Regions from separate parts of the Homo sapiens genome. Here region 1 is linked to region 2. Evidence: fine-mapped expression QTL. A gene starts in region 2. The other region holds a variant in brackets. All regions are shown on one strand. Distances are between the middles of the regions. Region 1 holds the start of PDE6B-AS1 (PDE6B antisense RNA 1). Region 2 holds the start of PDE6B (phosphodiesterase 6B).

Evidence for each region. PIP is the estimated chance that this variant, and not a neighbour inherited with it, causes the effect.
Region 1: its variant is the best candidate, but not a certain one, in a credible set for the expression of PDE6B in caudate (GTEx, PIP 0.53).

The regions. Positions count from the first base shown.
Region 1 is chr4:653,484-657,483 of GRCh38, reverse strand. PDE6B (phosphodiesterase 6B) reads right to left here. Exons shown (of 22, transcript NM_000283.4): 4 at 3,492-3,632; 5 at 3,330-3,404; 6 at 2,596-2,660; 7 at 1,478-1,544; 8 at 1,192-1,239; 9 at 461-610; 10 at 1-133. PDE6B-AS1 (PDE6B antisense RNA 1) reads left to right here and starts at 2,284. Exons shown (of 4, transcript NR_183811.1): 1 at 2,284-2,402; 2 at 3,271-3,419; 3 at 3,513-3,726; 4 at 3,801-4,000. The variant G/T (reference allele first, on the strand shown) is at 1,634.
Region 2 is chr4:622,978-627,452 of GRCh38, reverse strand. It overlaps PDE6B (phosphodiesterase 6B), which reads right to left and starts at 1,880. Exons shown (of 22, transcript NM_000283.4): 1 at 1,359-1,880. The coding sequence starts at 1,826. RefSeq lists enhancers at 226-1,214, 1,215-2,204, 3,194-4,184.

The sequences.
Region 1 (4,000 bases), 30 kb before region 2:
GGATCTCGTCCCTGTCGCACTTCACGTGGTAAAGGACCATGTCCTGTGCGATGTCCTTGCGGTTCTCCAGCTTGTTCATCTTGTCGTAGGTGTCGGTGTTCATCACTGACCAGCCCAGGAACTGTGTCAGGGACTGGAGGGGATGGCAGTGTCACTGGCGCTCAGCGCTCCCGGCGCGCCCCCTCCCATGTGCCTGTGTGCCAGGCCCCGTGGCTCGGCGGGCAGGTCCTGGGGCTGCCACCATGGTGTCGCAGTGCTTCTGTGTGGGGTCTCCCGGGTGCTCTGCAGAGGCTCCTGCTCCCGGGGGGGCCCTTTGTCGTCCTCTCCCTGGCCGCATGCATACCGCACACACATGAGCACACGCACACAGCCGAATGCTTGGCGGGGAGGCCCCCACACCGCACAGGCCCCACCCCTCGCAGGGCATCCCCGGCGGAACCACGTCTGCCCAGGTGCTTACCTCCATGAGAACCTCGTCCTGTTCGTCAAAGGGCTTCCCGTCTTTCCTGTTGTAAAATGTGGCGACTCCCACAATCTCCTCCTTCTTGTTGACGATGGGCATGGACAGCACATTCTTGATGAGCCACCCGGAGTCGTCCAGGGCCCCTTCCTGCGGGAGCGGTGTCCAGAGCTGAGCTCCGCCCTGAGGCTGGCCCTGGCCCGGGCGTGTGGCCGGGGAGAGTGACCTCATGTCTTCTCCCCTAGAGCCGTGACGGCTGGGCTCGTGTTCCTGTCTCTGCTCTCTGCATTCCCTCTCTCCCTCTCTGCATTTGGAGTTTGTGTCCATGGTTTTTGTGTCATGATATTTTCCCACCGGAGGAGGTAGAGGCCGTTTTCCCACCAGGAGTGGTTTCATGGGCATGTGTGTGGGGCGGCGGTCACGGCCTCGCAGGGGTGTGTGGGGGCCGCGGTCACGGCCTCGCAGGGGTGTGTGGGGGCCGCGGTCACGGCCTCGCAGGGGTGTGTGGGGGCCGCGGTCACGGCCTTGCGGGCGTGTGTGGGGGCTGTGGTCACAGCCCCAGGTGATCCACCCGCCTCAGCCTCCCAAAGTGCTGGGATTACAGGCGTGAGCCACCATGCCTGGCTGAAGTTGTTTTTTAAGTGGCAAAAACGAATTCACTTCATCATCGCTGAATCAAAATCTCCTCTTTTGTAAGTAAGTATAATTTCTACCAAGGCACAGACAGATACCTGAAATTTGAACATTTCGTCAGCGGAAGCATTCATGATGTTACAAATCTGAAAAAGCATCAGAAAAACGATTTCATCCAAAACAGCGGAAGGTCTGTTATGATCTAAAATGGCCTCTGTGGCCCTGAGGTGAGCTTTTAAGTAGGTAAAGCAGGGCAGCTGGGGGCTTCACTGAGGCACGTGGAGCTGGCCGGGAGGGCGGGACGTGGCAGAGACAAGGAGAAGCACACATCGCCGCACCCAGTGAGGGCAAGGCTGTGGGGACTCCAGACAGCACGGGACTCACAAAGCCGCTTTCTGCCACGTAGCTTGGAAGGCCGCTGGCCAGGGCCCAGTGATCGGCTGAGGGTGTGCTGTGGGCAGAGAGCAGGGGTCAGATAGGCCACGCCGGGCTGGATGTGCGCGTGCAGGAGTCAGAGGGACTGGATGTCTGTGTGCAGGG[G/T]TGAGAGGGGCTGGTCTAGGCTGCACGTGTGTGTGCAGGGGTCAGAGGGGCTGGTCTGGGCTGCACGTGTGTGTGCAGGGGTCAGAGGGGCCAGGCTGCGCTGGATGTAGGTGTACTGGGGTCAGATGGACTGGGCGTGTGTGCAGGGGTCTGGGGGTCTCTGGCTCATGTGCCATCCTCAGCATTTACTCTCTTCTCTGAGTGCCAGGGGGTTCAGGAGGCGAGGAGGCCAGGGCGTGGGTTGGAGGACGGCTGTGCTGCCTTCTTCCTCCTCCCCAGGCTGCCGTGCTGGGGCCCCTCCCTCTTGGGAACCCCTCCCTCTCCGGAGGCCGTATGGCTTCAGCCTGCTTTCTAGGACTCAGCGTTGGTGCCTGCCCTGCCACCCTGACCCTGACTTGTGCTCAAGCCTGGCACCTGGATCCTGGTTCCTGCTTGGGGCCTGGGGATGGGGTCCCAATAGGCTTATGGGATCACAGGGCCACTGGGCCACCAGCTGCCCCTCCCTTGGCTGGAGTCCTGCCCTGACCTCCGGACTGGAGTTCCCCTCCTCTTCCAGCCCCACGGGGCCAAGACTCGGCCTCCTGGCTGGAGGCTCCACTGTCTGGGTGGGGCTGGTGGTGCCAGGGTCAAATCCTGGGGCCTTCATGCTCAATTGTTGCTGACGAGGCCGCCTGGACAGCTTGCCTGGTCCCCTGTATGTCCACTCTGGATGTCCACAGTGACTCGGGCTCCTCAGCAGCCCACGTCCTCCTCACCATCTCCCAGAACAGTGAGTCGGCTTCTGTCTCACCCCCAACTCCACTATGCCCCACGGCACACAGAGCACCACAGGTGGGGCCAGGCCAGGCCGGTGCTGCTGACTGCACCGTGGGAAGCCCTGGGAGGACGGCCCTGGGGGCTGAGCCGGGGTCTGAGGGGCGGTCCCTCCCCCGGGGACGCTTCTGGTAAAATCCTGCACTTACGGAATGACCTTGATCTCCTCCTTGCCGTGGAGGACGTAGTCGATCACTTTGTAGAAGACAATTTCCTGAGAAGCAGAAGACACTGGTCGGGGGGCTGCCTGGCCAAGCTCTGAGGGGCTCACACACACACACACAGCTACATGCAGCTACACACAGCCACACGCATGCACACCCCCACACACGTAACCGTGCATGTGTACACACGTGAACAGATGTCTCCGCCGTGCGCAGGTATTCTACGAATGCGGGTGCACTCACACCCATGTCCACACATGCACAGGCTCAGGGTGCACACACATGCAGACCGTCCCCAATACTCACGGGACACGCATCACACGCCGCGGTTTACATCTGTCTTCCCAGTCTGTGTTCCGCACAATCCCACACACAAGCTGGGCCCGTACTCTCACACACACACACACACACGCATCCTACACGTGCACAGGAGGTCCCACGTGGGGAGATGGGGCAGCAGGAGCCCCCACAATCAGAGCCGACGTGGGTCTTCACGACCAGCCTGGCGGCCCTCATTCAGGGACCAGCCCTGGACACCCCATCCCTGGAGTGCAGCAGCAGGGGAGCCTGGTGGAGACCACAGACAGGCACCCGGGGTCCCACCGGCCAGTTCCCACCTCCCTAAACCCCACCCCTATCCCTCCCTCTCCTGCCCTGGAGTTGGAGTCAGGGAAACAGAGGCGTGTGGACAGGCCCTGGGCCCCTCCCCTAAGACTCACCCGGCCATCAGGCGTGCGTGGGCCCGAGTACGGCTGGGACTCTCCCATCAGCACAGACCACACGTCAAAAAATTCCTGGGCAGAGAAGAGGTGAGGGTGGGGCGGTCACTGCGGGACCTGGGTCGGGCCAGGCAGGGGGTCCCTGAGCCACGGAAGCCTCACCTTCTCCTTGGTCATGTCCAGGAGGCCCACGGAGTACCGCTCGCAGTTGAGGTAGGCCCGCACCGTGTAGAAGGCCTTGTGGAACTGCCTCTCGATGTCCGTCAGCTCCTCAAACACCTTGTTGGCCGACCACAGCAGCACCTGGAGGGAGGGGCACACCTGTGGGCCTGTGGCCACTCCCACCCTCACGCCGGTCTGACCACAGCAGCAGGGGTTTAACTCAAGCCTGACACAGGTGCGCTCCCTGATCTGACCACCTGCCCAGCCGTGGAGCCTGGCACAGACCCTGATTGGTGGCTCCGTGGCCAGGTTTCATCTGAGCTTGTGGGGCCCGGGAGCTGGCTGGCGGTGAGGCCTCGAGGCTGCGGTCGTGTCCCTGATCACTCAGGAGTGGACGAGTGGAAAGTGGAATCTGTCGCTTTGAGCTTGACAGGCAAACATCCGACCAGCCCTTCCTCCGCCCGGCTGCTCCAGAACCACCTGCGGCGAGCAGGGCTTTGAGAACATCG
Region 2 (4,475 bases):
CACTTCCGGCCTGGTGCGGTGGCTCACGCCTGTTATCCCAGCACTTTGGAAATCTGAGGCAGGTTGATCACCTGAGGTCAGGAGTTCGAGAACAGCCTGACCAACATGACGAAACTCTGTCTCTATTAAAAATACAAAAATTAGCCGGGTGTGGTGGCGGGCACCTCTAGTCCTAGCTACTCAGGAGGCCAAGGCAGGAGAATCGCTTGAACGTGGGAGACGGAGGTTGCAGTGAGCTGACATCATGCCACTGTACTCCAGCCTGGTGACAGAGCAAGACTCTGTCTCAAAAAAAAAAAAAACCCACAAACGAAAACAAACCAGGATTGCCACTCCCCAGCTGCCTGGGAAGGAGGGACCACACCTGCCCCTGGGCTGGCAGCCTGGTGGGTAATTCCCAAGGCTCATCCAGCAAGAGCGGAGGCTGCCTGGGCCTCTTGCAGCCTCCTTAGCTGTGGGGACAGAAAAGGGGAGAGGAAGCTGGGACGGGTGCAGGACAGGGAGAAGGGGCTTCCCCCCTCCCCTTCTTCCTCAGAGCCCCCTTGCCGGGCAGCTCCTCAGGGCCTTTCCAGGTCTCTGCTGGCCGCTGCCCTCACCCAGTCTGGCAGGCACCTCACACCCCTCTTGTTCTCCAGTCCCGCCAGGACCGCCTCTGTCCTCGGGAAGCGTCTGCCCTAGCCCAGGCTTTGCATGAACAGGCCCTGCCCTTCCCTCCTTCAGTGACTCCAGTGAGCCTGTCTCGATTCTGTCTCTTGTCCCTCCCCAGTCCCACCCTGGACCCCTGTGCTCAGTGGCTACCAGGTTTGTTCTCCCCTGGCGGCTGGCGTGGGCTCCCATGGGATAAAGCTGCTTCTGCCACAGTGGAAGTTTGGGGTTCCCCTGGCTCTCCCTCCCTGTGGGCGTCTGCACCACCTTCGACTGTGACCTCTTCTTCCCAAATCCCAAGGCAGGGCCTCCCTCCCAGCCCAGAGAGCCCTGAAGCCCCCATCTGGTCAGTCTTCCTGGAAGCCAGGGGTCCTCACAGGGACTACATGGTCCCCACCATGGGATGTGGATGCAGAATCAGGGGCACCCCGGTTTGAGCCTGAGTCTGCTTCAGCCGAGGCTCCTAGACTCAGGTCTAACCAACTCAGTGGCCATGCGATGTCAGCTTGAGCCAGAAGCCGAGTCGGAGAGGCAGGCGGCCAGGGCACAGTGCCGGGAGGGGGCTCTAGGTACTTGCTCCTCAGCACAGAACTAGCCTGTGCCCTGACAAGAGGCCTCCCTGGAGGCCTGAGGATCCGAGCTGACCCTTAGACACCTGGGACAGGTGCAAGAGATGCACACAGCCGCCTCCCTGAGGCTCCGCACAGACCCACCTCGGCCACGTCCTCGACGTTCACCATCTTTTTGGTCTGAGCCACGTGGCCCACGACCCCGATGTCCAGTGGGAAGACGATCTCGGAGTCGGGGGGCACCAGGCAGTCCTCCAGGACGCTGTCCGGCTGCACGCTGAAAAGCCTGGTGGCCAGCTCGGCCACGCCGTTGCGCTGGCGGTACATGAAGAGGCTGCAGCGGTCGGCCTGCAGGAGGGTGCAGAGGCGCCGCAGGACCTTGAAGACCACGCGCTCCATGTTGATGCTCTCCTGCATATCCTGCACCAGCTCCAGCAGCGCCGTGCTCTCCTCCACCTGGCAGAGGTCCCGGAGGCTGTCGCAGTCCGGCGGGCACCCGTCCTCGCAGGCCGCGGCCACATTCTCAGGGCTCAGTTTCTTCCCAAAGTACTGGCGGGCAAAATCGGGGTTCTGGTCCAGAAAGCTCCGGGCCTGCTCCTCACTGAGGCTCATGGTGGCTGCCTGTCCCTGGAGACGCTGCTGCTCCAGGCACGCATGGACTCCCAGGAAACCCTGTCATCAGCAAAGTCTTTCTTAGTGAGATTAGGAACCCCGGGGGCGGGTCAGCTGACTCACTCCTACAAATGGGGGCCTGCGCTCCCTCTCCTCAGACCCTGGGACTTCCCACCTTCCAGGAAAACCAGACCCTGTGGAATGAAGGCTGGGAGTAACTGTTGGGGGATCTCCTGCCTGTTGCAGGCGTCACGGGTGGCTGGGCACAGGCATTTGGCTTCTAGCGGACCAGGCCCTGAGAACTAATCCCCTGAGGAGGTTATCCCACACACAGCATGACGCTTTCTGCTGGTGGAGCTGCCTGAGGGTTTGGGTTGGTCCCACAGGTGGCCCCAGGCCCTCCTGGGAGCCCAGACCTGGGCTCGGGTGTGCTGGGGAGGTGGTGGGGCACTGGCCCTGCCTCCAGGAGATGCAGTTCACCCCTGTGCAGGGAGAGGGGGCTGGGTAATCACACCAGGACCCAAATGCCCAGAGGCCAGCAAGGGGACCCTGGATGTGGAGGTGGGACCACATCCACCTTCCCCCACACTCTGAGGGATGCAGAGTTGCTAGTCAGCCTTTACCTGCTGTCAGGCCCCGGCTGGGACAAGCTTCGGGGTGACGCCGCTCTGAGGCCACATGGCTTTCAGTGGAAAAAGGACCTGAATGTTGGGGGGCTGCCTGGCAACAAAGCCCGACCTCTCCTCTCCGCTGTCACCTCAGCAAGCCTTGCCTGCTCCCATAGGCCTCTCGGCTCCTGGGCCAGCTCCCTGCAGGCCAGCAGGGGTGATGTGGCCAGAAGCACCTTGGCTGGGTCTGGCATGGGCGCCGGCCTGGCGGGCGGGTGGCAGTGTTCCTGATTTCCCTGAATATAAAAACGCTGATTGTCGCTTTCCAGGCACCTTTGTGCTGCCAGATCCTGGGCTTAAGGTTTCTTCCCATCTTTTCCAGTTTATCTGTCCATGTTGTCACCATACTTTTAACCAGGATGCAAGGTTTTCATGTGGTTCTTTTACTGCACTCAGCTGGTAGACGTGTGTGCACGCGTGCATGAGTGTGCACATACGTGTGTGCACGGAGTGTGAGTGTGCGCACGTGTAGGTGTGTGTGTTCGTGTGAGCACGTGTGCATGACAGCCAGGTGCCCTCAGGAGCGCAGAGTTCTCTCAGCACGAGGCCAGGCCCCGGGGAAGCTTCTGCGAGGGCCCTGGGCTGCACCGCTGCAGCTGCCTGTCTCGGAGGCTGCTCTGAGGCAGCATCTGCGCCGTCCACAGTGGGCCCAGCTGGGTGTGCGACGTGTGCCCTTGTGCCATGATGTTCCTGCCTCCACTTAGTCACAAAGTCACTTCCTTTCAAGGATCTGCTGAGAGGCTTCCCCTTTTTCCTAAAAATAGTGAATTCTCACTGGGGACGGGGGAGTGGGGATGTGGGTGGGGGGAGGGGTTGTGGGGCCGCTGCAGTGCTTGGGTTTGGGGCCGGGGGGAGGGTCGCCTGCTTTGCATTCAGTCCCAGAACAGCCTCCAGAGCCTGCCGGTTGCATTTCCCAACTCCCAGGGATGAGCTCACATTGCGCCTGGATGTGAGGATGGCGGCCGGAAACCAGCCTTCAGGTCCTCGGTTGCCCCACCCTGAGGTCTATGCACACGCAGCCCCTCCCCACCTCCTTTTTCCTCTCCGGGCTCTTTCCCGTCCCCCAGTTCCTCACAACCCCCTTCTGGACACCCCCACTTTGCCCCTTGCTCCCCTCCGTCAGCGAGGGGCCTGCCAACCTCCCTCCCACAGGGGCCTCCGTGCCCGCAGAACTGAGACACTCACCTGCGTGTGAAATGAGCTAAGCGCATCTTGAGTGGGACCGCAGAGCTGGAGAGGCCTTGCTGGGGGCATGAGGGCCCTGGGGTGGGGCTGGGGGTGGCAGCTGACCTCAGGCTCTGCCTTGCCACCTGCCCAAGGGAGCGTGGAGTGGCTGGGCTCAGTGTGGAGAGCAGGTGGGACAGGGAAGGGGTGCTGGGCTGAGGATTTGTGGTGCTAGCGGGAGTGAGGGTTGGCTGGGAGGGCTCAGTGTGGAGAGTGGGTGGGACGGGGAAGGGGTGCTGGACTGAAGATTTGGGGCGCTAGCGGGAGTGAGGGTTGGCTGGGAGGAGCCCACAGTCTGCGGCCATAGTCCACTCACCCTAACACGACTGTGACAGCAGCTTCCACCCGCAGCACCGCGTTCCTCACCTGTGGCTTTGTCCTGCCCCAGGAGCCCGTCGTGATTGTAGGTGAGTAGGTTCAGGGCGGCAAGGAGTCCACAGCCTCTGGGGAACCCTGAGCCATGACCATGGGAGTTGTGTGTGAACACCGCAGCTCCCTTACCTGCAGGGGCCCAGAGGTAACTGCTCCATGGCACACTATTGGTTCTATCTTTTCCCCATCTCACTTCCCTACATACCTACTGATGATGCTGGGGGACCCTGATTGGGTTGGACTTGACACAGTCAAAAAGACACACCTGTGAGGCACACCTGTGAGACACACCTGTGAGACACAGCTGTGAGACGCACCTGTAAGGCTTACCTGTGAGATGCACCTGTGACATGCACCTGTGAGATGCACCTGTGAGACACACCTG